Linked DNA regions of Homo sapiens. The protein of the gene in region 4 purifies or fractionates together with the protein of the main gene of each other region. This does not show direct contact. Each region holds a gene or a part of one and is shown on either strand. Other genes may lie near its edges.

Region 1 (7,545 bases), 6.0 Mb from region 4:
GATGTTTTGTGCACCAAATGGTGTACCAGGATGTGGCAGTAGTTCCCTGTTCTGGCACTAGGGGAAACTGGAGCAGCTCGGCCCATCTGGGCTTAGCCTTTCTGTAAGTAGCACTGAAACACCTTCTTAGGCAGATCCACACCCCCCCGCGTGTGTGGCAGACGCTGGCTGGTGGTGTGGAGCGCCGCGAGGCAGGTGATGAGAACACAGCCACGATTTAGTCACCGCAGAGAAGCAGTGTGTGGACTTGAGCTAGAAATCCGGACACCTTCCATCTTTTCCTAGTTTCACTTCTCAAGTTGAAATCTCTCACCCTTTCTGAACCATGTATTTTCCAATCTGTCAAGGGGGTCAGGAGTGTTTGTCAGAGAAGCATCTATAGCATCTGTGCCCTCTACGTGCCCTCTGGCGGAAGTTGTTTTCCTGAAACTTTGGACCAGCTTTGGCATTTTAAGCAGGTTTGTTGGCAAAGAGATGGACTGGCAGCAGCAGGGAGGGAGCAATGTGTCTGTCTCACTTGGATTCTGCCCCGAGGGCTCACAATCTGTTTTCCCTGCAGCACCAAGTACCCTAGCGCCACTCAGCAAATGCGAGTTAACGGAATCAGCCCGGCTTCTACAGGGAACCTGGGCTCCTTTGCCTCAGGAAGGCAAGTGGCTTCCCAGACAGCGTAATTTGGGAGGATGCATCGCTCTGCCACCCAGGCTGGAGTGCAATGGCGCGATCTCAGCTCACTGCAGCCTCTTCCTCCCGGGTTCAAGCGATTCTCTTGGCTCAGCCTCCCTACTAGCTGGGATTATAGGCATGCACCACTGCACCTGGCTAATTTTTGTATTTTTAGTAGAGACGGGGTTTCACCATGTTGCCCAGGCTGGTCTCAGGTGATCTGCCCGCCTCGGCCTCCCAAAGTGCTGGGATTATAGGCGTAAGCCACCGTGTCTATGGCCAAGCCTCTCTGAATTAGACAACAACTAGATAACCTACTTGGAAATTTGATTAGCATCTTCCAGATTTTCCACAATGAGGAGCGTCATCCCCAGCAGCTTGAAGGCCTAATTTTGTGTTTATTACCACAGTGACTTTGCTTTTTAAACCAGTAGGATTCTGCCAGGGAAGACTTGGAAGTGGCAGGAGACCCTGCTCTGCTGTAGGAAAGGATGTTCTCAGAGTTTCTGCCCTGTTCATAGTTTACATCCAATGCACACACACGCAGTTTCCTTATGTGACTGCGTCCTTGTTCCTCCTCATGCTGTGATTTCACCTGTGGACTGCTCTGTGTACTCCCATAGCATTAACCAGTCATGGGATGTGGGCTCCCAAAGCGAGGCCTAGCCTCGAGTGAGGAGGCAGCTCCCTTCAGAGAAGGGCAGTGTCCAGGAGGGACTTGTGGTCTGTTAGCACCAGTACACCTGGTGCCTCAGTCTTCCAGGGGGAATGCAGACAGAGCCACAGCACTCACCTCTGCAGCAGTTCTCAGACGTGCCCCCGACCCGCAGCCTCACCTCAGAAAGGCAACTCTTCCAGCCCCACTCTGGAGGGACGGAATCAGAAGCTGGGGAAAGGTCCAGCAGTCTGTGCGCACAGCCCTCTGGGGGATTCTGAGGCATGCTCAGGTTTGAGAGCCCCTGCATTATAATGATAGAAATAGTTGTAAATGGAGCCAGGCACAGTGGCTCATGCCTGTAATCCCAGCACCTTGGGAGGCCAAGGTGGGTGGATCACTTGAGGTCAGGAGTTTGAGACCAGCCTGGCCAATGTGGCAAAACTCCGTCTCTACTTAAAGTACAAAAAATAGCAACGTGTGGTGGTGCACGCCTGTAATCCCAGCTACTCAGGAGGCTGAGGCAGGAGAATCTCTTGAACCTGGGAGGTGGAGGTTGCAGTGAGCTGAGATTGCGCCACTGCACTCCAGCCTGGGTGACAGAGCCAGACTCCATCTCAATATATATATATATATATGTATGTATAAATAAATATATATGTATATTTATAAACTTTTTTTTTCAAAAACCATTTTAAAATGTTAAACATACGTGTCATAGGACCCAGCCCTTCACTCCTGGGTATTGAACTGAGAGAGGAAGGCATATGTACGCACAAAGACCTGTACGTGGATGCTCATAGCAGCTGTACTCACAATACCTTTAAACTAGAGACAACCCAGGTTCATCAGTAGGTGAATGGATAAACAGAGTGTGGTGTATCTACACAGCAGAGTACTTAAGAAGTGAGCTGTTGATAACCCAGCGTCATGGGTGAATGTCTAAGTTATGCAGAGTGAAAGAAGCCAGACCAAAAAAAAAAAAAACCCATATATATATATATATATATATATACACACACACACACACACACACACACACACACACACACACTCTATATATATATGTACTATGTATATGTGTACTATATATGTATATATACACTATATATACACACTATATACACACTATATATATATATATATATATATATATATATATATATATATATATATATATATAGTGTGTGTGTGTGTGTGTGTGTGTGTGTTTAGTTTTTGAGACAGAGTCTTGCTCTGTTGCCCAGGCTGGAGTGCAGTGGTGCAATTTCGGCTCCACTGCAACCTCCACCTCCTCCTGGGTTCTAGTGATTCTCCTGCCTCAGCCACCCAAGTAGCTGGGATTACAGGTGTGTGCCATCATGCCCGGATAATTTTGGTATTTTTAGTAGAGACCTGGGTTTCTCCACATTGGCAAGGCTGGTCTCGAACTCCTGGCCTCAAGTGATCCACCCGCCTCGGCCTCCCAAAGTGTTGGGATTACAGGCGTGATCCACCACGCTTGGCCTATATATATTTATATGCTATAAATATATAAAAGTCCATTGATAGAAAAGTCTAGAGTGCAAACCATAGTGATAAGAAAGATCAGTGGTTGCCTGGGAATGGGGTAAAGAGCAAGAAAGGGTTGGATTATTAAAAAAAATGAGGAAATTTTGAGGGGGATGATGGATGTGTTTATTATTATGATGTACTGGTGTCTCCATTGTGTACATATGTCAGAACTCATCAGGTAATGTACCTGATCAAGTTGTATAGCAGTTTATATGTCAAGAACACCTCAACAGAGCTGTAAAAAAAACACGACAGGTCTGACAGTTACCTGGGAAAGGTGGGGGAACAGGTGGTAGAAGAACACATTTTTTATGATGTTCATGGTACTTACATAACATAAATGAATAAAATAGGGCCAACATGGAAAAGAAAACAAAATGAAGGAAAATGTCAAATTGCCATCCTGAACACCAGCACCGCCTGTAATTAGCGTTCCTGGCTGCAGCCACATCTGCGGTCCTGCTCCTCATGAAGCCGTCCTCCGTGCCATGTCCCGGCCATGCCTGTCCTTAGCTTCCTGGTGCACACTGTCCTCCACCTTGTGTTCAGGCACAGGGCTGCTTGGCTCACCCTTGCTGCACCTGGCCTGTCCGTCCTCCCACCGCGGTGCCGCCCAGGCCTTCCCACTGCAGGGCTGGCTAACGGTGCATGGAAGAGACTCGAGTCCGTGTTGTGTCCTCATAGCCCACCGAGGAGGCAGCAGTGCCGGACATTTCGCGGATAGGTTGTGGTCTCTGAGTCTCCTCCTCTCAAGAGGATGAGATTTGTCTGTGTTATTGTCAAAACTCTTATTTGTCACGCCGCGGGTTATGTGTCAGTAACAAAAAGCTGAGATTTAGGCCGGTGTTTCTTACTGGTGCAGCCTTTAAATGCACACCTGCGAATGTTCAGTGCACCTTCCGCTTCCTGGCTCTATTTCAGTCAAACCTGAGGTCGTAGTGAAAGTCGGTGAGGAATTCTTTGGAACTTCCTGATTGGCTGTGTCCTTGCCTCCTTGTCTTCCCGCAGATTTGATTTGTATCCACTGTCACCAGCACTGCTCACTTAGGACTTTCTGGATCCGGACCCAGGCAGCGCACACTGGACTCTTGAGGAAGTGAGTACCCCACCACTGCCTGCCTGTTGAACCCGGGGAGGCTCTTGTCTGACTGAAATCACTGCAGGCTTCCCGACGATCCCCTGGGTGTGTGTGGGCAGGCGCACTTGCCACTGGGCACAGGTGATAAAGCATTGTGATTTTTTTTTTTGGTGAGAGGAACGGATGTATCTAAGATCTCAGGAAACTGAGAACTTCCTTTTCTGCTCTTATTAAATGTCAATATATATATAATATATATCAATATATATGTAAATGTATATATTGACATTTAATAGCAAACACTGGAATAATGAGAGGATAGTGACGTTCAGACGTTAAAAGCCAGTGGGCTTCATCGTGGAGCTCAGAATTAAGGTGAAGTTATTTAGCCACACCCAAGGTCAGGTCAGGTAAAATGCTCATTTAACTTACAGGAATGAACTTTGAAGACCATGGCCTTCAAATTGCCTGGGATTATTTCCATGGAAATGCTACTGTGTTTACATTGTCACGAAATGATAGGAAATAGTTTTTGGTTTGGGTTTTTGTTTTTGTTTTGAGACAGAGTCTGTCACCCAGGCTGGAGTATAGTGGCACGATCTCAGCTAGTTGCAACCTCCGCCTCCCAGGTTCAAGCGTGTCTCTTGCCTCAGCCTCCCGAGTAGCTGGGATTACAGGTGCTCGCCACCATGCTCAGCTAATTTTTGTATTTTTAGTAGAGACAGGGTTTCCCAATGTTGGCCAGGCTGGTCTCGAACTCCTGACCTCAGGTGATCCACCCGCCTCAGCCTCCCAAAGTACTGGGATTACAGGCATGAGCTACCTCACCTGGCCTTTCCTTTTTTTTTTTTTTTTTTAGAAGCTGGGTCTCCCTGTTGCCCAGGTTGCAGTGTGGTGGTGGTGCAATCACAGCTCACTGCAGCCTCGACCTCCCAGGCTCAAGTGATCTGCCCACCTCAGTCTCCTGAGTAGCTGGGACTACAGGCATGCACTACCACACCCAGCTAATTAAAAAAAAATAAAAAATAAAAAATAAAAAGTTTTTTTGTAGAGATGGGGTCTCACTGTGTTGCCCAGGCTGGTCTTCTGGTCTTGAACTCCTGGGCTTAAGCAATCCTCCCACCTCAGCCTCCCAAAGTGCTGGGATTACATGTATGAGCCACCATGCCCAGCCACCCCCCCCCCACCCCACTTTTTTTTTTTTTTTTTTGGACAATCACCAGAGAGCTGAATTTTACATTGATTTCACATGTTTGTGTCTTAGGTGACTTTTCCCAACTGTTAATTGATAGAAAATGATTTGTCTGTATCCTTGAAAGATTGTACTGTATTATTTAAAAAAAAACCCTCTAATCTTCCCATTTGACAAATGTGACAGAAGGCTGTGATGAATCAGTAGCATTTAAAGTACTGACACATACCTGTATTTTGCAGGAAGGAGACTCTAATTTTGGATTCCTTGGTGGAGGAAAATAAAACACTCTGGTCTTGCCGCCAACGATGCAAGTGTGACTGCTGGCGTCTTCATGAGCTCCAGAGGTCACAGCACGCTACCAAGGACTCTCATGGCCCCTCGGATGATTTCCGAGGGAGACATAGGAGGCATTGCTCAAATCACCTCCTCTCTATTCCTGGGCAGAGGCAGTGTGGCCTCCAATCGGCACCTCCTCCAGGCTCGTGGCATCACCTGCATTGTTAATGCTACCATTGAGATCCCTAATTTCAACTGGCCCCAATTTGAGTATGTTAAAGTGCCTCTGGCTGACATGCCGCATGCCCCCATTGGACTGTACTTTGACACCGTGGCTGACAAGATCCACAGTGTGAGCAGGAAGCACGGGGCCACCTTGGTGCACTGTGCTGCAGGGGTGAGCCGCTCAGCCACGCTGTGTATCGCGTACCTGATGAAATTCCACAACGTGTGCCTGCTGGAGGCGTACAACTGGGTGAAAGCCCGGCGACCTGTCATCAGGCCCAACGTAGGCTTCTGGAGGCAACTGATAGACTACGAGCGCCAGCTCTTTGGGAAGTCGACAGTTAAAATGGTACAGACACCTTATGGCATAGTTCCCGACGTCTATGAGAAGGAGTCCCGACACCTGATGCCTTACTGGGGGATTTAGTGCCACTGAAGCCTGCGTCAGCAGCCCGAGCGGGGCCGGCATCTGCTCCCCGCCGTCTGCTCCCTCTCCACTCTCTTCTCAAATGGCTGACTTCTGGTTCTCCCTCAAGTGTTTTTTACACTGGGTGTTCAAATTTATTTTAAGAGATAGGGAGGGAGGGGACATAAAGGGAATGCATACATTGCTAGTCACATTTTTAAAATTAACATTTTGGAATAGTGTTTATGGAAATCTTTAGCTTTTAATCATTTTTACCAATTTGAACAGTTTAATAAACTGGTTCTGCTCTCTTCTGAATCTCATGCCTTTGGCACCTTGGTAGGTGCAGGAGGAGCTCAGTGCAAAAATCACTTTGGGGCCTCATTAACCCTTTAGAGACAAGCTTTGCCCCAGGCTGCGGACCAGACAGATGCTTAGGGAAGGTTGATAACCAGCTTCAGTCTCTACTGGATTAGCCCTACTCTTTCCTTTCCCCTCCATTATTTAGTGACTCTGTAAGTAAGTTAAATACACCCTTATTATTTAGCTGTTAAGTAACTATAATGAAATCTGCTGCAAAATCTCTCTTGGAATCCATGTGCCCAGGATTATATTAGCATTATTTTTAATAAATCTATATGCTTAACATATTAGAATTTTTACTAATAATTTCAAGGTGTGTGTGTGTCGATGATGGGAAAAAGGTGCTCTCCAGTAACTAACTAACTAACTGCTGAAATGTGGCTCCTGTGCCAGTTGGGAACATTACTTAAAATACACATCCCAGCAGAGTCTTGTCGGCGCGTCACATCCTGGTGGACAGGCAGACACACCGTCCCCGGTGCTGGGCCGGTGGGAGATGATTGATAGTGCACGCTCTGATCAGGGGTGCTGGTTTTGGTTTCCTCTTGGTTAGTGGAGCGCCCCGAAGCAGCGTGTCCTCCATCAGAGAAACTGGTTTTCAATAAAAGGTGCCTCTGCTTGACTATTATTACCACATACGAAAATGCCCTAAACCAAACCTCAGTATGAGCGATAAGCAAGTAACAAAAACAAACAATGGCTGCCTTTGTTTAACTTTGGGACTGTCTGTCACCCAGTTCACTGCTCCTGATAAAACGGGCAGCACCGCTCATCATCATCAGATACATGGTAGAAGGTGAATGAGCTCGCCCCTGTCCCACTCCTGGGACACTCCTGGGCACTTTCCACGTGCCCCCAAGTAACCACTGTCCTAGGGCATGCCTTTCTTCTGCATGGAGGGCATCCTGGGCGTCTGCCCGTGCAATGGGAACCCGCTGCGGCACTGCTCTTTGGCTTCATTTATCAGGAAGGTTGTAGCTTGCTCACCAGAGGAATAGTTTTCTAGATTTTTTGGGTCAGTTTTGGCAGGAAGCCATACATAGGCCAGTAGCTACATATTTAGACAAATATACTCCACATTTTACCTGGTTTGTGGCAATGGTTTTTTCCCATCTAAATTCTACCTT
Region 2 (7,545 bases), about 12 Mb from region 4:
AAATGCCTTTATTCTCCCTGTATTCTAGAATTTTGGTTTCACCATGTGTCTTCTATTGATTTCAGAGTTATTTTTGTATTTTTTTATATTTTTAAAAAGATGTTTTGTAGCTGGAAGGTTTTTAGGATCTCTATTCTGCCACAGTGCTGAAAGAAAAACAAAGATTAAGAACAGATTAATTTGCAGTCCACTGTCAGTCACGACTGTTCCCTGAACTCTTAGTATATTGGGTATACAGTTCTATATTAATCTCAAGTTTATTGATGGTAATTCAGGTTTTCTGCATCCTTAACTTATTTTTTTTCTCTGTTTGACCTGTTGATATGGAGAGTTGTATTGAAGACTCCCATTATGATTCTTGTAGGGGTTTTTGTACTATTTCTATGTTTAATATATATTTTTCTTTAAATGTTGTATTTTTGAAGCTGTTTTATGTGCTTAAAGGTTCACAATTCTTGTATCTTCTTGGTGAATTGTACCTTTTGGGAATAAACGAGCCATCTTATTTAATTTTTTTTTTGTTCATTCTCTTTATATTGCTGTACTTGCTTTTTGTTAGCATTTATATGGAATATCTTTTTCTAGTCACTGATTTTCAATTTTCTGTGTCTTCTTTAATTGTTACTCTTACCATTAGCTTATGGCTGGATTTTGTTTAATTAGTTAATCTTTGTCTTTTAATAAATATTGTGGTAAAATAACATAAAATTTATTATTTATTATTTTTATTTTTACCATTTACTACTTTTAAGTTTACAGTTCCCCAGTGTTAAGTGTGTGCACATTGTTATGCAACCAATCTCCAGAATTTTTTCATCTTACAAAATTGAAGCTCTGTATCCATTACCGCAGCCCCTGGCAACCACCATTCTGCTTTTTGTCTCTATGAATTTGCCTATTTTAGGTACCTTGCATGAGTATCTAATATAGTACCTCATATAGTATTTGTCTTTTTATAACTGGCTTATTTCATTTAATGTAATGCCCTCAAGGTTCATCCATGTTGTAGCATGTGTCAGAATTTTCTTCATTTTTATTGCTAATTAATATTCCATTGAATGTATACACCACATTTTGCTTATCCATATATTTATCAAAGGATATTTATGTTGGTTCCACATCATAGCTATTATGAATAATGCTGCCATGATCATGGGTGTACAAATATCTCTTCAAGACCCTGCTTTCAGTTATTTGGGTATATACCCAGAAGTAGAATTGTTGGATCAAGTAGTACTTCTATTTTTAATTTTTTGATGACCCAGCATAGTGTTTTCCGCAGAGGCTGAACCATTTTATATTCTCACCAGCAATGCGTGAGAATTTCAGTTTCCATACATCCTTGCTAACATCTGTTATTCTCTCTCTTTTTTTGATAGTAGCTATCCTTATGGGTGTGAAATCTTTGTCTTTTAATAGGTAGCTTTAGCCCATTTATATTTATTTTGATTACTGATCTTTTGCGGATTATTCCTGTCATCTTATTTTATATTTTTGATTTCCTTTTTTGAGACGGAGTCTTGCTCTATCGTCCAGGCTGGAGTGCAGTGGCACGATCTCCGCTCACTGCGACCTCCGGCTTTCGGGTTCAAACGATTCTCCCAACCCAGCCTCCCGAGTAGCTGGAATTACAGGCCTGCAACCACTATGCCCGGCTAATTTTTGTGTTTTTAGTGGGGACAGGTTTTAACCGTGTTGGCCAGGCTAGTCTCAAATTTCTGACCTCAAGTGATCTGCCTGCCTTACCCGCCCAAAGTGCTGAGATTACAGGCATGAACCACTGTGCCGAGCTGGTTCATTTCATTCTCATTGCTGTGTATATGCCATTGTATATATCCCTAATATAGATATACATTTGACTTTGATTGGCAGTTGGTTGTTTGCATTTTTGGACTATTATGAATAGTAAGTACATGAACACTCTAGTACACGTCTTTTGTTGAGTGAGTGTGTGCATTTCTGTTGAGTGTGTATCTGGGAGTGGAACTGCTTGGTTGTAGTCTGTGCATGTGCTCGGTTTTAGTAGATACTAGCAAACAGTTTTCAGTACCGGTTGCACCAACTTATTTACCCCAGAAGTATATGTGGTTGCTCCACATTCTTGCCAACTCTTGGTAATTTCTGTCTTTTACCTTTTAGTTATTCTGGTGGATACTGTGGTTTTAATTTGGATTTTCCTGATGATAAATGAATTTGCACTGTTTTGGTACCCTTAGTTTTTCACACATATCTAAACATTTTTTTCTCTTGCTATTAAAAGATAATCTGTTTATGTGAACTCTCCATGAGTAAAGCAAAAAAGAATCTTATCATGATTTTAATTCTGTCCCATATTAAATTTTTGGGTTTTCATACATTATGCATAAACAGTTATTTAGGTAAACTGTAAATTTTTCTGATTATTTACTCATCATTGGTGCTTTTATTTCATTTGTTTTCTTAATGAGTCCTTAAGTGATTATTTGGTTTTGTTTTCAGGGATTCTGTGAATGGTAAACTTTCTGAACCCTTGCATGTTTAAACAATGTTTTTTATTTCACTTTTCCATGTGAATATTCTTGACTGGGTATAGGATTCTACGTTAAAACCTTCTGAATTTTGGAGATATTGCTTTATCTGCTGGTATCTAGGAAGAAGTGCACGCGTCTGACTCTCGTTTCTTTGTAGTTAATGTTTATTTTCTCTGAAGCTTTACAATTTTTTTTCTTTCTCCTTGGTGTTCTAAAATTTAACTATTATTTGTCTAGGAGTGGATTTTTTTTTTGAGATGGAATCTTGCTCTGTCACCCAGGCTGGGAGTGTGGCATGATCTCGGCTCACTACAACCTCCACCTCCTGGTTTCAAGTGATTCTCCTGCCTTAGCCTCCCAAGTAGTTGGGATTACAGATGTGCACCACCATACCCAGCTAATGTTTGTATTTTTAGTACAGACAGGGTTTCACCATGTTGGCCTGACTGATCTCAAACTCCTGACCTCAGGTGATCCACCTGCCTCGGCCTCCCAAAGTGCTGGGATTACAGGCATGAGCCACTGCGCTTGGGCACCACACTGGCTTAAGAGTGGATCTCTTTTGTTCTTCCTGCTCAGCATTTGGTAGTCCGTTTCATTCTAAAGATTAATACACATTTCTATGGCACTGGAGAAGTTTTGAGTGTTTCCTTGCCTCTATTCTATTTTCTGCTTCTGGAATTATTCTTACTTGGGAATTAGAATATCTTGATTTATCTTTCATGTTTCTTGAAATAAGCATTTTTTTCTCTCAAATATTCTGTCTTTTTTAATTTAATTTTTTTTTTTTTTGAGACAGAGTATTGCTGTGTTGCCCAGGCCTGGAGTGCAATGGTGTGGTTCAATGTGACCTGCAACTCTTGGACTCAGGCAATTCCCCTGCCATACCACTGTGCCCAGCGGAAATGCTCTCTTTATCTTTATGGGCTGCATTCTGGGATGTTCCTTGGGCTGGTTTTGCAGGTCACCAATCTAATATTTAGATTTGTTCCGTCAACTCTTTAGCCCATCTCTTGAGTGTTTTTAAATATTGATTATCATATTTTTAACTTTCCGGGTCTCTATTTTTTTTTTTTTTTTTTGAGGTGGAGTCTCGCTCTGTCGCCCAGGCTGGAAGGCAATGGCACTATCTCGGCTCACTGCAAGCTCTGCCTCCCAGGTTCACGCCATTCTCCTGCCTCAGCCTCCCCAGTAGCGAGGACTGCCGGTGCCCACCACCACGCCCGGCTAATTTTTTGTATTTTTAGTAGCGACGGGGTTTCACTGTGTTAACCAGGATGATCTCGATCTCCTGACCTCGTGATCCGCCCGCCTCGGCCTCCCAAAGTGCTGGGGTTACAGGCGTGAGCCACCACGCCTGGCCACGGGTTTCTACTTCTTAAAGTTTAACTTTTGAAATAGGTAAGATAGGCAGGGCGCAGTGGCTCACGTCTGTAATCCCAGCACTTTGGGAGGCCGAGGCGGATGGATCACGAGGTCAGGAGATTGAGACCATCTGGCTAACATGGTGAAACTCCGCTTCTACTAAAAAAAAAATAAAATAAAAAATTAGCTGGGCGTGGTGGCGATTGCCTGTAGTCCCAGCTACTCAGGAGGTTGAGGCAGGAGAATGGTGTGAACCCGGGAGGCGGAGCTTGCAGTGAGCCAGGATGGCACCACTGCACTCCAGTCTGGGCGACAGAGAGCGACTCCATCTCAAAAAAAAAAAAAAAAAATAGGTAAGATAATCAGTGTTCAAAACCAGACTGTATTAAAAAGGCATAAATGAAAGTGAGAGGTGACAGCGTGCTGGCAGTCCTCGCTCGCTCTCGGTGCCTCCTCAGCCTTAGTGCCCACTCTGGCCGCGCTTGAGGAGCCCTTCAGCCCACCGCTGCACTGTGGGAGCCCCTTTCTGGGCTGGCCAAGGCTGGAGCCAGCTCCCTCAGCTTTGCAGGGAGGTGTGGAGGGAGAGGCGCGGGCGGGAACCGGGGCTGTACGCGGTGCTTGCGGGCCAGCGTGAGTTCCCGGTGGGCGTGGGCTTGGCGGGCCCCGCACTGGGAGCGGCCGGCCAGCCGGCCCCAACGGCCCCAGGCAGTGAGGGGCTTAGCACCTGGGCCAGCAGCTGCTGTGCCCGATTTCTCGCTGGGCCTTAGCTGCCTCCCTGCGGGGCAGCGCTCATGACCTGCGGCCCGCCATGCCTGAGCCACCCCCACCTCCTGGGCTCCTGTGCGGCCCGAGCCTCCCTGACAGCACCACCCCCTGCTCCACGGCGCCCAGTCCCATCGACCACCAGAGGGCTGAGGAGTGCGGGCGCAGGGCGCGGGACTGGCAGGCAGCTCCACCTGTGGCACTGATGCCGGATCCACTGGGTGAAGCCAGCTGGGCTCCTGAGTCTGGTGGGGACTTGAGAACCTTTATGTCTAGCTAAGGGATTGTAAATACACCAGTCAGCACCCTGTGTCTAGCTCAGGGATTGTAAACGCACCAATCAGCACTCTGTCAAAATGGACCAATCAGCTCTCTGAAAAATGGACCAATCGGTTCTCTGTAAAATGGAGCAGTCGGCTCTCTGTAAAATGGACCAATCAGCAGGATATGGGTGTGGCCAGATAAGAGAATAAAAGCAGGCTGCCCGAGCCAAGAGTGGTAACGTGCTGCGGTCGCATTCCGCGCTGCTGAAGGTTTGTCCTTTTGATGTTTGGAATGCGTTCTTATTACTGCTCACTCTTTGGGTCTGCACTGTCTATATGAGCTGCAACACACACCTCGAAGGTCTGCAGCTTCACTCCTGAAGCTAGCGAGACCACGAACTCACCAGGAGGAACGAACAACTCTAGATGCGCCCCCTTAAGAGCTGTAACACTCGCCGCGAAGGTCTGCAGCTTCACTCCTGAGTCAGCGAGACTACGAACCCACCAGAAGGAAGAAACTCCGAACACATCCAAACATCAGAAGGAACAAACTCCAGACACACCGCCTTTAAGAACTGTTACGCTCACCGCGAGGGTCCACGGCTTCATTCTCCAAGTCAGACCAAGAACCCACCAATTCCGGACACAAAAGGTGTTCCCACCATTCCTGTCCTCTTACTTCTCTCGCCTTACAAGTAGGTAACCATTGTTGTTAGTTACTTATGTACCTTCCAAAGTTTCTTCATGCAAATACAAGCAAATATGAATCAGATTCTCCATTTCTCCTTTTTTGCACAAATAGTAGCATTATTCTCTATCTGGTCTTCATCCTGTGTTTTTATTTCTTGGTATATCACAAAGATCGTCACATACCAACTGCTTGCTCTTTATAATGTCCCCTTAGGTCTTCCCAAGAATATCTAATAATTTCTTCTATGTGCTCTAGTAATTATCTTTGCTTGGGTTTGTGTTCTGTTGATTCAGTGTCCCTGTTTCATCATACTGAATAAAAACTTGGTGATTCTTTATGTGTTCATCTTCGAAGTTTGAGAATTCCTTTTTTCCTGTCTTACTAGGCGTAGCGTGCCTCCTGTGATTGTTGAAGAGCTGTGGTGTGCTGCTGAGTGGCGTGTGTATTCCATGTGAGGGGAAGGGTCCAACAGTCCTGGTCATTCAGACTGCAGTTCCCCAGGTAATCACCTTGTCAGGTTCTACCTCTGCTGTTCTATCTGCTGTTACAAGTCTGTTCCTGGAAACCTGTTACCATTTCCTTCTGCATAACAGCCTCCTCCCAAGCTTGTATTGGGCTATGGTTTGCTCAGGTAATCTGGTTCTGAGTACTTTTTACTTTTCAGAAATTTCCTAGACATTTTAGTTGGCCATCGGCACTCTTGTTTTCCAGGTTTCTTTTGATTTAGTGTTTTAAAAATGTTTCTACCATTCCATTGAATTTTAAGACACTTGGAAGGCAGAAGTATGTGTTTAGTTTATTGTTTTGGGGACAGGGTCTTGCTCTGTCTCCCAGGTTAGAGTGCATTGGCGCAGTCATAGGTCACTGTAACTTTGAACTTTTGGGCTTAACTGGTCCTCCTGCCTCGGCCTCCCAAAGCGCTGAGATTACCGGCATGGGCCACCATGCCCAGTCCTTGGTCTTTTATAATTTATTTCTGTGTTGGGGGCCCCCAGGACCATGCTCAGATCTGGTGGTTCACTTGGAAGACTCAGCATGTGGTGTACTCACGGCTGTAATTTATTACAGTGAAAGGATACAAAGCACAATCAGCAAAGGGAAAGGTGCATGGGGCCAAGTCCAAAGGAAGCCAGGCACAAGCTTCCAAGCATCCTCTCCCAGTGCAGTCACACAGGATGTATGTGCTTAACTCCCCGAGGAAGGAGCTGTGACAACGCATGTGAAATGCTGTCTACCAGGGAAACTCACTAGAGACCCAACACCCAGGGTTTTTATTGGGGGCTGGTCATGCAGGCCCCCTTTGCCCAGCACATACCACATTCCACGCTACCTGAAGAAAAGCAGGAGTTCAGCATAAACCACACAATAATTTAGGCACAGTGAGTCCCTCTTTCCAGGTTGGATGGTGGGAACCCTTCTGAAATCTAAGTTCCCAGGTGCCAGCCAAGGATTAACCATGCTTTTTATGAGACTTTTTAAGAATAACAGTCTTGGGCCAAGCACAATGGCTCATGTCTATAATCCCAACACTGTGGGAGACCAAGGTGGGAGGATCTCTTGAAGCCAGGAATTTGAGACTAGCCTGGCCAATACAGAAGACCCTATCATTCATTTATTTATTTATTTATTTATTTATTTATTTATTTATTTATTTATTTATTTATTTTAAAAAGCAGTCTTAGGCCTGCTGTGTTAACTCTTTTCTGTAAGATTTTCCTCCTGTGTTCCTCAGAAAAAGATGGACACTTTACCTAGAAATGACTTCTCCCAGTCAGATGGTCATGAATTTTTTTGCCTTCTCTGAAGAGAGAACACATTTGTATTAAGGTGAAACTGAGTGGAGAACATTTCCTGATGTTGGAGAAAGCCATAGCATGGCACGTGCTCAGCAGCCTTGAGAGGGTGTCAGTGAGAGAGCACAGAGGGACTACTCAACCATTCAAAATTATTTTGA
Region 3 (7,545 bases), on a different chromosome or scaffold from region 4:
GGTGGCCATTGGTGTTCCGCTCACATGTGTTCCCTGGTGTCCTGTGTATCTGGCCACTCACCAAGCAGCTTATTGCAGCTTCCTGGTAGCCTCAGATAGAATTAGTTCTGTGTTCCCAGTATTACTGGCCCTGGTCCTGTCTTCCCAACATGTAAGCATGTAGGTTTTGTTTTGGGATTTTTATTTTTTTATTTTTTTGAGACAGGGTCTCACTCTGTTACCCAGGCTGGAGTGCAGTGGCACAAACATGGCTCACTGTGGCCTCAACCTCCTGGGCTTACGTGATCCTCCTGCCTCAGCCTCCCATATAGCTGGGACCACAGGAGTGTGCCATCACACCTGGCTAATTTTATTTTTTTTTTGTAGAGACGGGATCTTGCTGTGTCGCCCAGGCTGGTCTAGAACTCCTTTCTTCAAGTGATCCTCCTGCCTTGGCCTCCCAAAGTGCTAGGATTACAGGCATGAGCCACCACGCCCAGCATGGGGGGATTTTTAATTATTTAAGGAACATTTTAATGATTTAGTTTTGTTTGTTTGTTTTTTTATTTTTATTTTTATTTTTTTAGAGACAGGGTCTTGGTCTGTGACACTGCCACCTAGGCTGGAATGCCTTGGGGCCATCATAGCTCACTGTAACCTTGAACTCCTGGGCTCAACCAGCCCTCCCATCACAGCCTCCCGAGTGTCTAGGACTATAGGCGAAGAGCCTACCACAAGGACTATGAGCCACCACACCTGGCTAACTTCTTAAGTTTTTGTAGAGAAGGGGTCGCATGATGTTGCCCAAGCTGGTCTCAAACTCCTGGCCTCCAGGGATCCTCCTGTCTCGGCCTCTCAAAGTGCTGGTATTACAGGCGTGAGCCACTGTGCTGGCCTTATCTGGTATTTTATGCAATTACATATTTATTGCTCATCCCAACGTTCAATCTGAGGTCGGTCATGGAACCTGTGGAAGAATGGAGAGGTTTGTCACCTCCTGCAGGCCCTGGGTTCACTGAGGTGGCAGTGCAGAGTTAAAGACACAGCAGGAAGCAAGCCGTTGCTAGGTTGCTCTCATCTATGAGAGCCCGTTAGGAGCAGGAACCCTGGACCAGTAGGGACTGAGGGCTCCCAGAGAGAGTGCTGAGGCTCAGAATGTGGAGGAGCTGACCAGTGCGTCTGTGATCAAGCTGCGGTCAGTGTGTGATGGGGCAAGATCAGGCCAGAGAATTGTGGTCCTCAGTGCAGCCACAGCTGGACTTGAGACCTTACCTCATCTGTAACACAAGGCCTGAGTGGATAACTTTACAAAGCCCCTCCAGTTAATACTTTCTGGAATAATGGCACCAATTCATTGTGCAACCTGGTCCTGCCCAACCCCATCCTGTCACCATTCTCGGGACCAGCTTCATAGGCTTTGCCTGGTCCTGGCGTATCAGCCCCCTTTCCCTTCCGGCTTAGCTTAGCTTTGCTTTGCTTGTTTTCTTGGCTCTTTCTTTTCTTTTCTCTTCTCTTCTTTTCTTTCTTTCCTTCCTTGTTCCTTTTTTTTTTTTTTTAAACTGAGTCTTGCTCTGTCGCCAGGCTGGAGTGCAGTGGCGGGATCTTGGCTCAGTGCAACCTCCACCTCCCGGGTTCAAGCGATTCTCCTGCCTCAGCCTCCTGGGTAGCTGGGACTACAGGCGCCCACCAGCACGCCTGGCTAATTTTTTGTATCTTTAGTAGAGGCGGGGTTTCACCATGTTGGCCAGGCTGGTCTTGAACTCCTGACCTCGTGATCCACCCACCTCAGCCTCCCAAAGTGCTGGGATTGCAGGCATGAGCCACCGCCCCGGGCCACCTTCCTTGTTCCTTTCTTTCTTCCTTTCTCCTCCCCTCCCCTCCCCTCTTTTTGACAGGGTCACTCTGTTGCCCAGGCTGGAGTGCAGTAGCATGATCATAGCTCACTGCAGCCTTGACCTCCTGGGCTTAAGTGATCCTCCTGTCTCAGCCTCCCGAGTAGCTGGGACTACAAACGCCCACCACCATGCCTGGCTAATGTTTTTTGTATTTTTTGTAGAGACAAGGTCTCGCCATGTTGCCCAGGCTAGTCCCAACCCTTGGGCTCAAGTGATCCTCCCACCTCGGCCTCCCAAAGTGCTGGGATTACAGGCTTTGGGAGAATACACTTCTGTTGTTTAAGACACCAAGTTTGTGATACTTTGTTGCCGCAGCGCTAAAAGCCAAGAGGCCACTGTGCCTCTTAAGGCCAATCCACAAGACTATTAATAGAGCTGTTTACACTTTTGTGTTCTGAGCGTGGAGCTATGGAGTTGTGGGTCCCGGCGACAGGCTTTCCTGAGAGATGTCAGCCCAGTTGCTGACTAGTCTGTGTGTTGTGCCTGTGTGTGTAGACCCACAACTCCAGCTCGTACCTTGTTTTCTGACCACAGTGGTCGAGGTGCTGTTGTGTCCTAAGAACTGTTACTAACTGGACAAGGCACTCAGACAGATAAACCAGCACAAAGCTCTGCAACTTCAGAGCCAGTGACAAATGCCAGAAGCCCGGGGGCTGGAGGGGTCCTGGGGCCCTCATGCTGCCGAGGGGAGGATGAGTGGGGCAGCCCTTTGCAGGGCTGGCCTGCCCCCACGGGTTGAGCGTAGAGCCTGCGTCCTGATCTGTCTCTGTATGGCCCAGTCTTATTCCCATTTACTGGGCATCTGTGTGGGGCTGGGCTCAGTGTTGAGTACTAGGGTGTGGAGGCAAGAGAGAGCCACGCCCTCAGGATCTACGAGCTGTGGACATGCTGCCCTCCTGTTTGTGGAGCTGTTTGTTTCTCCTACTGTCAGCATTTGACCAACGCAGGAAGGAGGCTCCGAAATCAGATTTTACCTGGGCACGGTGACCCCTGCTGAGGCAGGAGGAGGATTGCTTGAGGCCAGGAGTTCAAGACCAGCCTAGGCAACATAGCCACACCCTGTCTTTATCAAAAAAAAAAAAAACCAGAAGTCAGGTTTTGCTCAAAGTCCTTTATCCCTGAAGAGGGTCTCACTGTCACCCAGGCTAGAGTGCAGTGGCACCGTCACAGCACACTGCAGCCTTGACCTCGAGCCCATGGTCCCAGCTATTTGGGAGGTTGAGACGGGAGGAACACTTGGACCCAGGAGTTCAAGGCTTCGGTGAGCTGTGATTATACCACTGTATTGCAGCCTCGGTGTCAGGGCGAGACCCTGTCTCTAAAATAATAAAATAATAATAATAATAATAATAATAATAATAATAATCAGGGTTCTCGCAGTAATAGGGCTTAGTATTTTGTTCCATTGTGATGAGAACATTCTAGGTTCCCGGTCTCTGTCCCTTCTTACCTCAAGTACTAGACACAGAGGCTGGACCCTTCTCCCGCCACTTCTGGGGGAAGCTTGGGCTCCTCCGTGACTTTTCTGAAACTGTTTCTTCACTTGTGGGATGGACTAGTTGAGCCTGCTTCACCTCCTTCATGTAATGTACTGTTTATTTTGGAGGATTCTTTGAAAACGGAAAAGTACAAATTTAAGGCCAGATATTAAAAAATTGTCAGGTCAGATGTGGTGGCTCGTGCCTATAATCCCAGCACTTTGGGAGGCTGAGGCAGGCGGATCACTCAAGTCCAGGACCAGACTGGGCAAAGTGGTGAAACCTTGTCTCTGCAAAAAATACAGAAATTAGCCAGGTACGGTGGCATGCACTTGTAATCCAACTACTTAGGGTGCTGAGGCAAGAGGATCACTTGAGTCTGGGAGGTGGAGGCTACAGTGAACCATGGTGGCACCACTGTACTCCAGCCTGGGTGACAGGGCGAGACCCTATCTCAAAATAAAATTGTCATTTTAAGAACCTTTTTAAATTCTTTAAGAAGTAATTGGGGTTGGGTGTGTTAATTTCCTAGAGCTGCTGTAACAAAGTAACACAAACTGGGGGGCTTCAAGCAACAGAAATTTAATCTTTCACAGTTCTAGAGGCCAGAAGCCAGAAACCAAGGCATCGGCTCTCTCTCAAGGTTCTAGGGAAGGACCCTTCCTCGCCTCTTCAGCTTCCTGTGGGGGCCACCAATCCTTGGTGTTCCTTGGCCTTTATCCACAAGACAAGACGTCACTCCTATCTTTGTTGTCACGTGGTCGTCTTCTCTCTGTGTGTCTGTCCAGACTTCTGTCTGCTTACAAGGACACCAGTCCCGTCCTAATCCATTTTGTCCCCACCTTAACTAATTACATCTGCAAAGACCCTATCTCTAAGTAAGGTTTCATTCCCAGATACCGGGGAATGGGAGGTTTGGTTGTGGACATCTTTTTGGGGTTACCCACCACAGTGGAGTTTCTACCTATCCCATCAAAAAAGTGCTTGGAATTGCCACTTTGATAATTTGATGATAACTGGGTGTGGTGGCTTGAGCCTGTAGTCCCAGCTATTCAGGAGGCTGAGGTGGGAGGATTTGCTTGAGCCTAGGAGTTTAAGACCAGCTTGGGCTATATATAGCGAAACCCTCATCTCAAAAAAACATTTTGATGATATGAAATCTAAAATTATGAACTTGCTTGTGAAAATAGAATTTGGCAGGGCGTGGTGGCTCACACCTGTCATCCCAGCACTTTGGGAAGCCAAGGCGGGTGGATCTCTTGAGCCCAGGAGTTCAAGACCAGCCTGAGCATCACAGCAAAACCCTGTCTCTACAAAATACAAAAAAGTTAACCAGGCACGGTGGCACGTGCCTGTAGTCCCAGCTACTCAGGTTAGGATGGAGAATCGCTTGGGCCTGGGGAGGTCGAGGCTGCAGTGAGCCATGATTGTGCCACTGCACTCTAGCCTGGGTGACAGTGAGACCCTGCCTCAAAAAAAAAAAAAAAAAAATTGCTGGGCGCAGTGGCTCACGCCTATAATCCCAGTACTTTGGGAGGCCAAGGCTGGCGGATCATCTAAGGTCAGGAATTCGAGATTAGCCTGGCCAACATGGTGAAACCCCGTCTCTACTAAAAATATAAAAATTGGGCCAGGCGTGGTGGCTCACGCCTGTAATCCCAGCACTTTGGGAGGCTGAGGTGGGCGGATGCCGAGGTAGGCGGATCATGAGGTCAGGAGATCGAGACCATCCTGGCTAACATGGTGAAACCCCATCTCTACTAAAAATACAAAAAATTAGCTGGGCGTGGTGGCGTGTGCCTGTAGTCCCAGCTACTCGGAAGGCTGAGGCAGGAGAATGGTGTGAACCTCTGAGGCGGAGCTTGCAGTGAGCTGAGATCGCTCCACTGCACTCGAGCCTGAGCGACAGAGCGAGACTCCGTCTCAAAAAAAAAAAAAATTCTTTTAGCTGGGCTTGGTGGTGGGCTCTATAATCCCAGCTACTGAGGAGGCTGAGGTGGGAGAATCGCTTGAACCTGGGAGGTGGAGGTTGCAGCGAGCCAAGATTGTGCCATTGCACTCCAGCCTGGGCAACAGAGTGAAACTCTGTCTCAAAAAAAAAAAAAATTTGAGATGAAGTTTCAGAACAGAACATTGTAGGCTGAAAAACTCCAGAGTTAATAGTTCAAATGCCCAACTTCTGAGTGAGTAATTGTTAGTTCAAACGCCCAACTTCTGAGTGAGTATGTTTGTGTCTGGTGATGGGGCATCCACGCCAGGTCTTCTTTTGCTTTCTGAACATTTGCTCTTGACACTGCTTCTTTTAATTCAGTAAACTGTGCTTTTAAATCTTCCACTTAGGAAATTGAGAGGCTGACTGAGCGACTAGAAGAAAAAGAGAGGGAGATGCAGCAGCTGCTGAGCCAGCCCCAACACGAGCGAGAGAAGGAAGTCGTCCTGCTACGGAGGAGCATGGCAGAAGGGGAGCGCGCCCGGGCCGCCAGTGACGTCCTGTGCCGCTCCTTGGCCAACGAGACCCATCAGCTGCGGAGGACGCTGACCGCCACCGCCCACATGTGTCAGCATCTGGCCAAGTGTCTGGATGAACGACAGCATGCACAAAGGAATGTGGGGGAGAGAAGTCCTGACCAGGTAGGCCACAGTGTAAGCAGAGTGTGGGGAAGACCTCTGTGTGCTGGGAGCATCGCCTACAGGCCCCTGATCACAGAGGTGGGGGGGCGCCCCAGAACCCACTTCTGTTCTCAGTAACGAGAGTCAGCTGACGGGGCAAAGCTCACTCATCCAAGGGTTTCTTTTAAAATGATGGAACATGCAAAATGTAATAGGAAAGCAGGCAGCCACCTCACTGCCCAGCACCAGGCCTGTGGCCGACCCCGCTCCCAGGTGGGAGATGGCACTTGGCTTTCATCTGCCTCAGCTGAGGATGAGGAGGAGGAGCTGAGCCTGGCAGAGCTGCCTGGAGGAAGTGTAGTCACATCCTCCATCCGAGGAAACTGAAGCAGAGCCAGGTGGTACTGCTGGGGATGGGGAGTGCCTCCAGTTCCACACCCCAAACTCCTGGAAGGACCGTGAGTGCCCGCCTTCTTCAGGCTCAGTGTGTCTGAGTGCATGCAGGCACAGCTGGAACCGCCATCTCCAAAGCTGGCTTTAGGCATGTCCTTGCCAGCAGCACGGCCTCCCGCAAGCTTGGAGACCTGGCTCAGGGCCACAGCCTCCTCATCATCAAAGCAAGGGCCGGGGGCAGCGGCACCAAGTGACAGTGAGGGCCAAAGAAGGGTTCGCTGGACCTCCAGGATAGGCTGGATCTGGGCTGTAGCTCTCTGTGGGGTCTAGTGGGAGAGAGAAGGACCGTGGGAGTTTCAGCATCAGGAGAAACCAGGGGGCTCCTAGGCAGAAAAGTAGGGGAGCAGTGGCCCAAGGCATCTGTGTGCCAGGCACCTTCCATCTTGCTGGTGCTTGTGGTGGTCTGTGTGTGGCAGGCAGGGGAATGGAGGCACTCCGTGCACATCTCACCTAGGCTGAGACCCCATCTCACTCGCACTGCCGGGCACAGGGCCTCTCGCTCGGGTCCTTTCTAGGCAGTTCTCTGAGGCAGCACCAAGGTTCATGCAGAAACACACGCGCTGGGATGTTCTGTGGCAGACAGTACATCCCGCACCCATCAGCAGCTTCACCGAGGCGCCCACTGGGGAGAAGGTTGGTCTGAGAACTGCCCACCTCAGCTGGGTGGATTCCAGGCGGGGAACCTCAGAGAGGACACAGCTGCATTCAGAAACCAGAGGAAAAGTGCCGTCTGGGCGGAGGCAGGGTGTTCTGGTCTGATTTTGAGTCACTGTGTCATTTCCCTCTGGGGATTTGAAAGGAGCCACACACAGTGTTGAGCCTGAGGCGGGGGTGGGGCCAGTGGCAGGGTAGGCCCTCATCACAGTCTCTAAATAAGTGTCACTTCTCAGCCCTGAACTCAGCTGAGTCACCCGGGGCTTCCCGGTGTAGGCTGTGTTAGGACGTGCACTTCCTTTGTCATTTGAGGGGAATTCTCAAAAATTATGTCACTGAGATACAGTCAGAATTGTAGGGTACACACGAGTTTCAGGAGACTTTTCATTCAGCTCTGTAGTTGTTAGTGGGGGTTGGTTTGGGTTGTGGCTTCGGTGACTCCTGACCCTGCGTGGGGCAGAGGTTAGATTCCTGTG
Region 4 (7,545 bases):
CCAACTGAACGCAAGGGCAGCTCAGGGCCATGTAAAATCTGAGTCTACTACAGAAACCCTCGCCCCACCCCCAAAACACCTCTAAATTTCAGATAAGTTACTGCTAATCCCTACTCGGTAGGGTTGCCAGGTTTAGCAAAAACAATAAAAACAAACAAAAAACCCAAGTAGGACACGCAATTAAATTGGAATTACCTGAGCAGCTCTTTAAAAAATCCCATGCCTGGGCTACACCCACAACAATCAAACCAGAACGTCTGAGGATTCAGTCTAATCATCAGAATTTTTAAAATCTCCCCATTTCAAATATGTCCTGGCCAGGCATGGTGGCTCATGCCTGTAATCCCAGTGCTTTGGCAGGCTGAGGTGGGAGGATCACTTGAGGTCAGCAGCTCGAGTGAGGCAACACAGTGAGACCCTGTCTCTACAAAAAATAAGAAAAATTAGCTGGGCGTGGTGGTGCATGCCTGTAGTCCCAGCTACTCAGGCAGTTAAGGCGGGAGGATCGCTTGAGCCTGGGAGTTCAAGGTTGTGGTGAGCTATGATCATACCACTACACTCCAGCCTGGGCAACAGAGCAAGATCCTATCTCTAAAAATAACATCTGTCCCATGTATTAGATAGAACATATTTATTCTAAAATTATTTTCTATCTGAAATTCAAACTTAACTGGGCATCCTGTCTACTACCTCGCAGCCCCACTACTGAGGGGTAAGGGCAGAAACAAAGATCAAGCTCCTACCACCTAGGCTCTGGGACCTGCCACCAAGGGGTCTGGGATCTGCCAGGGGCTGTGGAGCTGGGACACCTGGGGCATCTGCCCCCTCAAGCTAGCTTTTGAGCCCAGAAGAATATTTTTACAAACATACACCATCTTTAAAAGCCAAGCAACAAGCCAGGTTTTACAAGAAATGTATTCTGGCTGAAGAAAGTAAGGTTGGACTTGAGGTGTGTGTGAGCTGGAATTCAGCCCCCCATTTAAAAGCCAGGCCTGCTCCAGAGGCCCCTCTGGCACTGCAGCAGGTCCCGGGGGCCTTTCAGACGCCGGCTCCCTCCGGAGCCTGTTCCCATGGCGCCCCTTAGAGGGAGGAGCCTGAAGCACGCCCCAGGCTGCCAGCTGCTTCCGCCCACCTTTCCCGTGGCAGAGATTCCTTCCCACGTTGTGACTCAGGCTGTGTAACCCAGGCCTCTGCAGCCTTCTCTGAAATTCCAATGCAGCCAAAGGGCAGATAACATTTTACAGATAAAATACTCAACCCTGGGGTAAGGCCCCCACGCACCAGTACTCCTTCTGACCTAACACCCAGGCCAAAGCTATGTCAGGATCTGTCTTGTTCCTTTCAGCCGTGGCCACTCCTTCCTATTGGCAAATTCTCAAGAGACCCTCTCCTCATGCCTTCTTCCACTGCCTCTTCGCAGAACCCTTGGGGGAGCCCAAGGAGACCCGCGTCCTAAGGGGCTGAGAAACTCCTAGAAGACCGACTGCCTAGCCTAGTCTTCCCAGTGTGGGTGGCTCCAAAGTCCTGGGTCAGACCAGTGCAACCCCATTATGTGCAGCATGAAACTAATCCCCAACAAAAGATTAAAAAGAAGCCACGAGATCCAACAAATGCAAAGGCTGATTGGAATGGAATTGAAGGTTGGTCCTGGCCACAGCCCTGCCTCTGTCAAGCAGGTGTCACACCCAAGTCCCCAGATCCCCTCTCCTCACCCTCACTGCCCTCTCTTTCTGCAACTCCCCCTCCACCGCCCTTCCCAACATGCCCAAACCTTCCTTCTCATACTATAAGATGTGCTGAAGAAAGCAAGAAACTGCAGGGGGAAGAATAAGACCACACACGTTTATATATATTTGGATTAAGAAAATGAATCACAAGCCATATAAAATTGAGATAAATTGGAAAACTCTAAGGTAAGTACCATGTCTATTCCCAGCTGCCTAGAACAAAGATCCATTAAAAATCCATGGTGTGAATTTCCACCATGGGTCAGAAGGATGGAAGACTAAGGTTTTCCTGCAACTTTCCCAACCGCCTCCCACCAGTGCAGCGAGTGCTCCCCTGGCTGAGAATCAAATACAGGTGTGTTTCTAAACGCTGGAACGAAGCAGTCTTGCTGCCACACGAGTGGAGCCCGGAGCTAGGATTCTGAAATCCAAACCCAGGCCTGCCATCACCAGGCTGCGTGGAGAATGAAGACAGGGAGCCAGGCAGACGGTTTCTCCGTGCATCCATCTTAAGATGCAGCCATGGGAAGGAAACTGACTGGGATGGGAGTTGTGTTCCTCCCCAAAACTCATTTCTTTGGTTGCCCGATGTCAACTCCTGCCTTAGACACCCATCCCAAACCCTCCTTCTCCTTCATTTTTATCCCTTCATGTTACAATGACGCAGTGAATGCTGCTTCATTGTCTTAAAACTGAAACAGAAACGGGGAGGTAGGTAGCATGGATGGGGGAGTGCACGAACTCTATAGGTACAGGATGAGGATGCCCCGCACTAGCTGCTATGAAACCTGAGTCCTCTGTTCACTCTGCACACACATCACAGAGGGCTGCTGGCCGGTGGCCAAGGCATTTGGTGAGGGCCCCATCTCATGGACCCTCCAGATGCCCCTTCATCCTCTCTGAGCTTGAACACTGGGGCTTGAAAGGTGGCCAAAGAGCTGGCGAGGACACAAATATGGGGCATTCAAACTCCTAGGAAAGATCACAATTTTGCTCCCACTCCCAAGGGGACTAGGAGTGGGGTGAAAGAGCCCATCGTACTAGAGCGAATGTGAATCCTTATCCCCAGAGGTAGAATCATTTTACCCAGTACCGGAAACACGAGCTTCCAGTTCTTGTTTTTACAGTAACTCCTGATAGCAGACCTTGCCTCCTCCCACTTCCAGTACCCTCTGCCCCTTGCAAAGGGGCCACAAAGTGCATGCACGGCTAACCGTGTGGATGCTGCCCACAGCCACGGCCACTCACCCCTCGCTCGTGTGCACAGCCTCCCCACATATACACGGGTACACGTAACGCATGGTGGCCAGAGAGACATTTACAGTGTGAGTGTGAGGCCCGGCTTAGGCCTGCATCCTTGGGCAGGGTCTGCCCTTGGTCCCAGGGTCCTAAGGCTGCTCTGCAGCCAGCCCCGTGCCTTAGTGTTTGATCTCGAGGATGGAGGGATTGTGGTCCAGGATGGCGAGGATAATCTTGTCCATGTACTGCCTCAGCCGGAAGTTGATCTCCTCCTGCTCCTTCAGGGCTTCCATTAGCTGAAGGAAATGGGAAAGACGGGTCAGTGGCTGGGCCTGGGATAGGGTGCAGGCAGAGTCCAGACTCCCAGGCTTGTCGCAGGCCAGTGCCTGACAATAGAGGGCATCAGGAGATCCTGGGCAAGGTGGGCCCCAGGACAGCCTCAGCATTTGGATGCCAGGACCAGAGTCGAAGTGGCTCAGCCCCTAGTATTACCTATGCAGGTGCCCAGGCCCCACCCCCAGAGATTCCAATGTGATCAGTTTGTAGAGGGGGCCCAGGTGTGGGTAATTTTTTGCAAAAGTAGAAAACACTAGCCAAAGTCATTTAAAATCAAGACTGACAAAGTCCCAGGGCCGCTAAGACTCCAAAGGGGAGCTGTCTCCTGCCTGGAACACCTCTCCCCACCCCCAGCCCCACACTGCTCTTCTCCAGGGCAGTGTTCTTTCGGACATTGCTGACATGCTGCCTCTGCCCAGGGGTTGGGGCCCAGCTCACCTGGGAGCTCCTTGAGGACAGAGGTCAGCTCTTCACCCCGTGTCCCAGGCAGAGGGTGAGGCTCAGTGACAGAGTGTCTTGTAATTCATGTTACAATGCAGCCGGGGCATTTTGGAGGCCTGATCTTTCATAAGCATACTCTGGTGTGGCAGGAAGGGTAGGCTTTGGCTTTGGAGAGAGCTGGGTCCCTCTCCCTCCCTAGCTGGGTGGTCCTGGGTTCCACCTTCCCAGCTTGGAATGTGGAGCTGTTCCTAAAGCCTCAGAGTCATCAGGAGATTAAGTGAAAACACACCGCAGAAGCAGGTGCTGGGGAAATGCTAATGTCCTCCCTCTCTGGACTGGGAAGAGCGGGAGTGATAGCCTAACCCAGAGTCACAGCTTGATCCACTCAGCTGGCTATGTTGGCATTTTTCTGGCCGACCTAAGACTCACACTCCACTCTGAACCAAACCCGCACTCCTTCCAGCACAGGCGGAACTCAGAGCTGACTTAACTTCTCCAGCAGCCCCCTCCCCTGCTCACAGCCTTGCCCTGTCATGTGGGGTAGCTGTAGATGGGACTCTCTGCCAGGCCCTGGTCTGGTTTTCTCACTCTGGGCAGGTGGGGGCCGGGAGAAGGAATCACAGAGGGCGGCCAGGCCCCAAAGCAAGAGCCGGTGGTGTGGTTACCTCATCGCGCGAGGCGGTGTCTATCTCCGCAGCCAGAGACTGGGCTTTAGTCTGGGCAGCAAAGAGGTTTTTTGCTTCGTAGAGGCTGAGGCTCAAAATCTGCCCATTCAAGTCGTCGTTCTGATCCCGCAGCTTATAATTCTCCTACAGAGAGAAGGACGAAGGCGACATCAACCCCAAGAGGCATCCACAGCCCACTGGAACCCACTTCTCCACATCCACCGTCCCCGACCTGCCGCCAGCGCCATTCCCACAGGTGTGTGTCACGGCTGGTTCAAGGGGCCATAGATGTTGCAGCCTTTGCCAAGCGCTGGGGGCAAGGAGGGCTGGGTCCTGGTCCAGGGGACTGGCATCCTGGGAGTGCACAGGGTTTGTGGAGGAGTTACAGCCCTGCTCAGCGCAGCCAAGGCTCCTGGCCATCCCTTCCTCCCTAGGCCCTGCATAGGGACATCACCCACCCAGCAGCCCAGTGAAGGAAGTGATGCTCTGGGCTCTCTGGGCAGGCTGGCCAGCTCATTTCCTTGGCTCCCCCAGCAGCCACGTTCCGAATCCTGCTTGGTTGGAGTTGACCCAGGCGGACCCGCCCAGATCCCATGCACCGGTCTCACACTCCAGCTTTTGCCTAAAGAGCCCTAATGCTCACACCTGGGACCCTGGGCACCCCACCCCTAGACTAGGAGAAGGGTTGGGGTTTTAGGATTTCTGTGAGAGCACAGCCACCAGCACCTTTGTCCCCAGTGGAACAAACTCAGAAGGATAATTTATGCTGCAGGCTCTTCCACCTGCAGGGTCAGGCAGAGCTGACACTTCACCCAGCACCACCTGGCCACTGCCTCCTCCTGATCCACTCCCCCACCCAAAGGTCTCTAGCTAAGGCAGCGCTCCTTGAAATGTAATCTTCTGGCTAGGCACAGTGGCTCATTCCTGTAATCCCAACACTTTCAAAGACTAAGGGTGGGAGGATCCCTTGAGCCCAGGAGTTCAAGCCTGGGCAATATAGGGAGACCCCATCTCTGGAAATAAATACATAAATAAGTAAATTAGCCAGGTGTGGTGGTGCTCTCCTGTAGTCCTAACTGCTCGAGAGGCTGAGGTAGGAGAATTGCTTGAGCCCAGGAATTTGAGGCCATAGTGACTGTGATCACACCACTGCCCTCCACCCTGGGCAACACAGTGAGACCCTGCCTCAAAAAACAAAAACAACATTAGCTGGGCATGGTGGTGTGTGCCTGTAGTCCTAGTTACTAGGGAGACTGAGGCAGAAGGATCACCTGAGCCCAGGAATTCAAGGCTGCAGTGAGCTATGGAGTGCCAAAGCACTCCAGCCTGGGTATCAGAGCAAGACCCTGTCTCTTGGGAAAAAAAAAAAAAAAAAGGAACCTTGGGTGAGGGTCTACTTCTGGGAGAACCCAATGCCTCCAGGCACTATACTGCAGCTGGGTATGGTCTCATCCTCCACCCTGAGCACCAAGGCAGGGTCTATTTCCTTACATAGACGTAAGGGAGAGATCTTTGGATCGATTTTCCTGAGCTGTGAAATGGGGCAGTCAGCCCTGGCAAACAGGTTGCTGAGAAGCAGACAGGCAGTGCTGCTACAGCTCTGGGCTCCCCTACCACAGATCCTGCACAGGAAACCCACGTGGTGGGCCCGGCCACCCTGCCCCACTGGACACAGAGACTGCTAGACCCACCTGCTTGAGCCGCTTGACCTCGTGCTCGAGCTCCACCTCGCGGGCCCTGGCATTGAACTCGCCTAGGCCAGAGGAGGCACTGCGGCCCCTGCCTGGCCGCTCGCAGTCCAGCTTGTACATCTGCAGGTGCTCCAGCTCCTTCCGCAAGTCCTCGATGAGCTGCGAGGGAGAGAAGCAGGTTGGCAGGAGCAGGGATGCTGGAAGGAGCCCTGGTGCCTGCTGGCCTGGGACCTACCTCCTGCGTCGCCTCCCGCTCCTTCTGGAACTCAAGGCGGTTCTGTCGCAGCTTGTCCATCATGCGCTTGTACAGGTCCATCTCATCTTTGAGCCGCAGGCTGGTGTCCTCCAGACGGTCAGACATGCGCTGCCGCTCCTGGAGCAGGGAGACCCGATCAGGGGAGGAGAGTTCCCAGAGAGGGGCTCACTATGTCCAGGGGTGTCCCTGGGGTCTGGTCAGCCATCTTCACGAGGCAGATGCACAGTGAAACCAGCTCCCTTAGACGGAGCCCTGAGTCTTGGCTTACAGAAACGGCCAGAGCCCCGATGATTCTAGAAATACAACTAAAAACCTCAGGCCTCTGAAGTCCTTCAACGATGCTAGATGCAACCTGAATTGAAGGTGTTAGCCCAAATAGAAGCTAACCTCTTTCTAAAACTAATTTTTCTCCATTGTATAAAGTAATAAATACATTCGCTGTAGAAAACTTGGAAAATCAGAAATACAGAAACACAAGTTGTTATTCACTTTTTTTGCATTTCTTAGGGGGTGCGGCATTTGTTTAGAATTTCAGAAGCAATAAACTAAAGGCTCCCGATGGCCAGCCCTGCCCCTCCAAGCCTGGATCTGCTGCTCACCTCATCCAGTTTCTCTGTTTGAGACTTGAGCCGAGTCACTGTTGTTCTAAGCTCTGTATTTTCTTCCTCCAACTGCTGCACCCTGGCGAAAGGAGAAAGACAAATCTCAGAAACCTGGAATGTAGACTATCTGATAAGCGCCTGCCAGTCTGCAGTGATTCTCTGCTTCCTCCCAGAGGAAAGATACCAGAAACCAACTGAGAGAAAGAATATGATTATTATGTCAAAGACAATTTAGCCGTGAGCTTCCTATCAGCCAAAGCAAAATAGTAAGGACTATTTGTAAGCAAAATAGTAAATTATCATTCTTATTTTCTTTCTTTTTTTTTTGAGACAGAGTCCTGCTCTGTTGCCCAGGCTGGAGTGAGGTGGCACAATCTCAGCTCTGCAACCTCTAACTCCTTCAGCAATTCTCGTGCCTCAGCCTCCTGAATAGCTGGGATTAGAGGCATGCACCACCACGCCTAGCTAATTTGTGTATTTTTAGTAGAGACGGGTTTTGCCATGTTGGCCAGGCTGGTCTCAAAAACTCCTGGCCTCATGTGATCCGCCCACCTTGGCCTCCCAAAGTGTTGGGATTACAAGAGTGAG

The links.
Region 1: the proteins of RAB11FIP4 (region 4) and DUSP14 purify together in Homo sapiens (affinity purification with mass spectrometry; 2 studies listed by BioGRID and IntAct, with this or other methods). This does not show direct contact.
Region 2: the proteins of RAB11FIP4 (region 4) and SPECC1 purify together in Homo sapiens (affinity purification with mass spectrometry; 2 studies listed by BioGRID and IntAct, with this or other methods). This does not show direct contact.
Region 3: the proteins of RAB11FIP4 (region 4) and TNIP2 purify together in Homo sapiens (affinity purification with mass spectrometry; 2 studies listed by BioGRID and IntAct, with this or other methods). This does not show direct contact.

What each region holds. Positions count from the first base shown.
Region 1 is NC_000017.11:37,506,794-37,514,338, forward strand, and holds the end of DUSP14 (dual specificity protein phosphatase 14), read left to right. Parts: intron 1-3,883; 5' UTR 3,884-3,971; intron 3,972-5,387; 5' UTR 5,388-5,479; coding exon 5,480-6,076; 3' UTR 6,077-6,705; downstream 6,706-7,545. UniProt on the Homo sapiens protein: Involved in the inactivation of MAP kinases. Dephosphorylates ERK, JNK and p38 MAP-kinases. Plays a negative role in TCR signaling by dephosphorylating MAP3K7 adapter TAB1 leading to its inactivation.
Region 2 is NC_000017.11:20,012,011-20,019,555, forward strand, and holds part of SPECC1 (cytospin-B), read left to right. Parts: intron 1-5,134; exon of another isoform or gene 5,135-5,595; intron 5,596-5,976; exon of another isoform or gene 5,977-6,092; intron 6,093-7,545.
Region 3 is NC_000004.12:2,746,093-2,753,637, reverse strand, and holds part of TNIP2 (TNFAIP3-interacting protein 2), read left to right. Parts: intron 1-5,692; coding exon 5,693-5,983; intron 5,984-7,545. UniProt on the Homo sapiens protein: Inhibits NF-kappa-B activation by blocking the interaction of RIPK1 with its downstream effector NEMO/IKBKG.
Region 4 is NC_000017.11:31,527,333-31,534,877, reverse strand, and holds part of RAB11FIP4 (rab11 family-interacting protein 4), read right to left. Parts: intron 7,037-7,545; coding exon 6,955-7,036; intron 6,473-6,954; coding exon 6,335-6,472; intron 6,259-6,334; coding exon 6,100-6,258; intron 4,553-6,099; coding exon 4,409-4,552; intron 3,263-4,408; coding exon 3,146-3,262; 3' UTR 1-3,145. UniProt on the Homo sapiens protein: Acts as a regulator of endocytic traffic by participating in membrane delivery. Required for the abscission step in cytokinesis, possibly by acting as an 'address tag' delivering recycling endosome membranes to the cleavage furrow during late cytokinesis.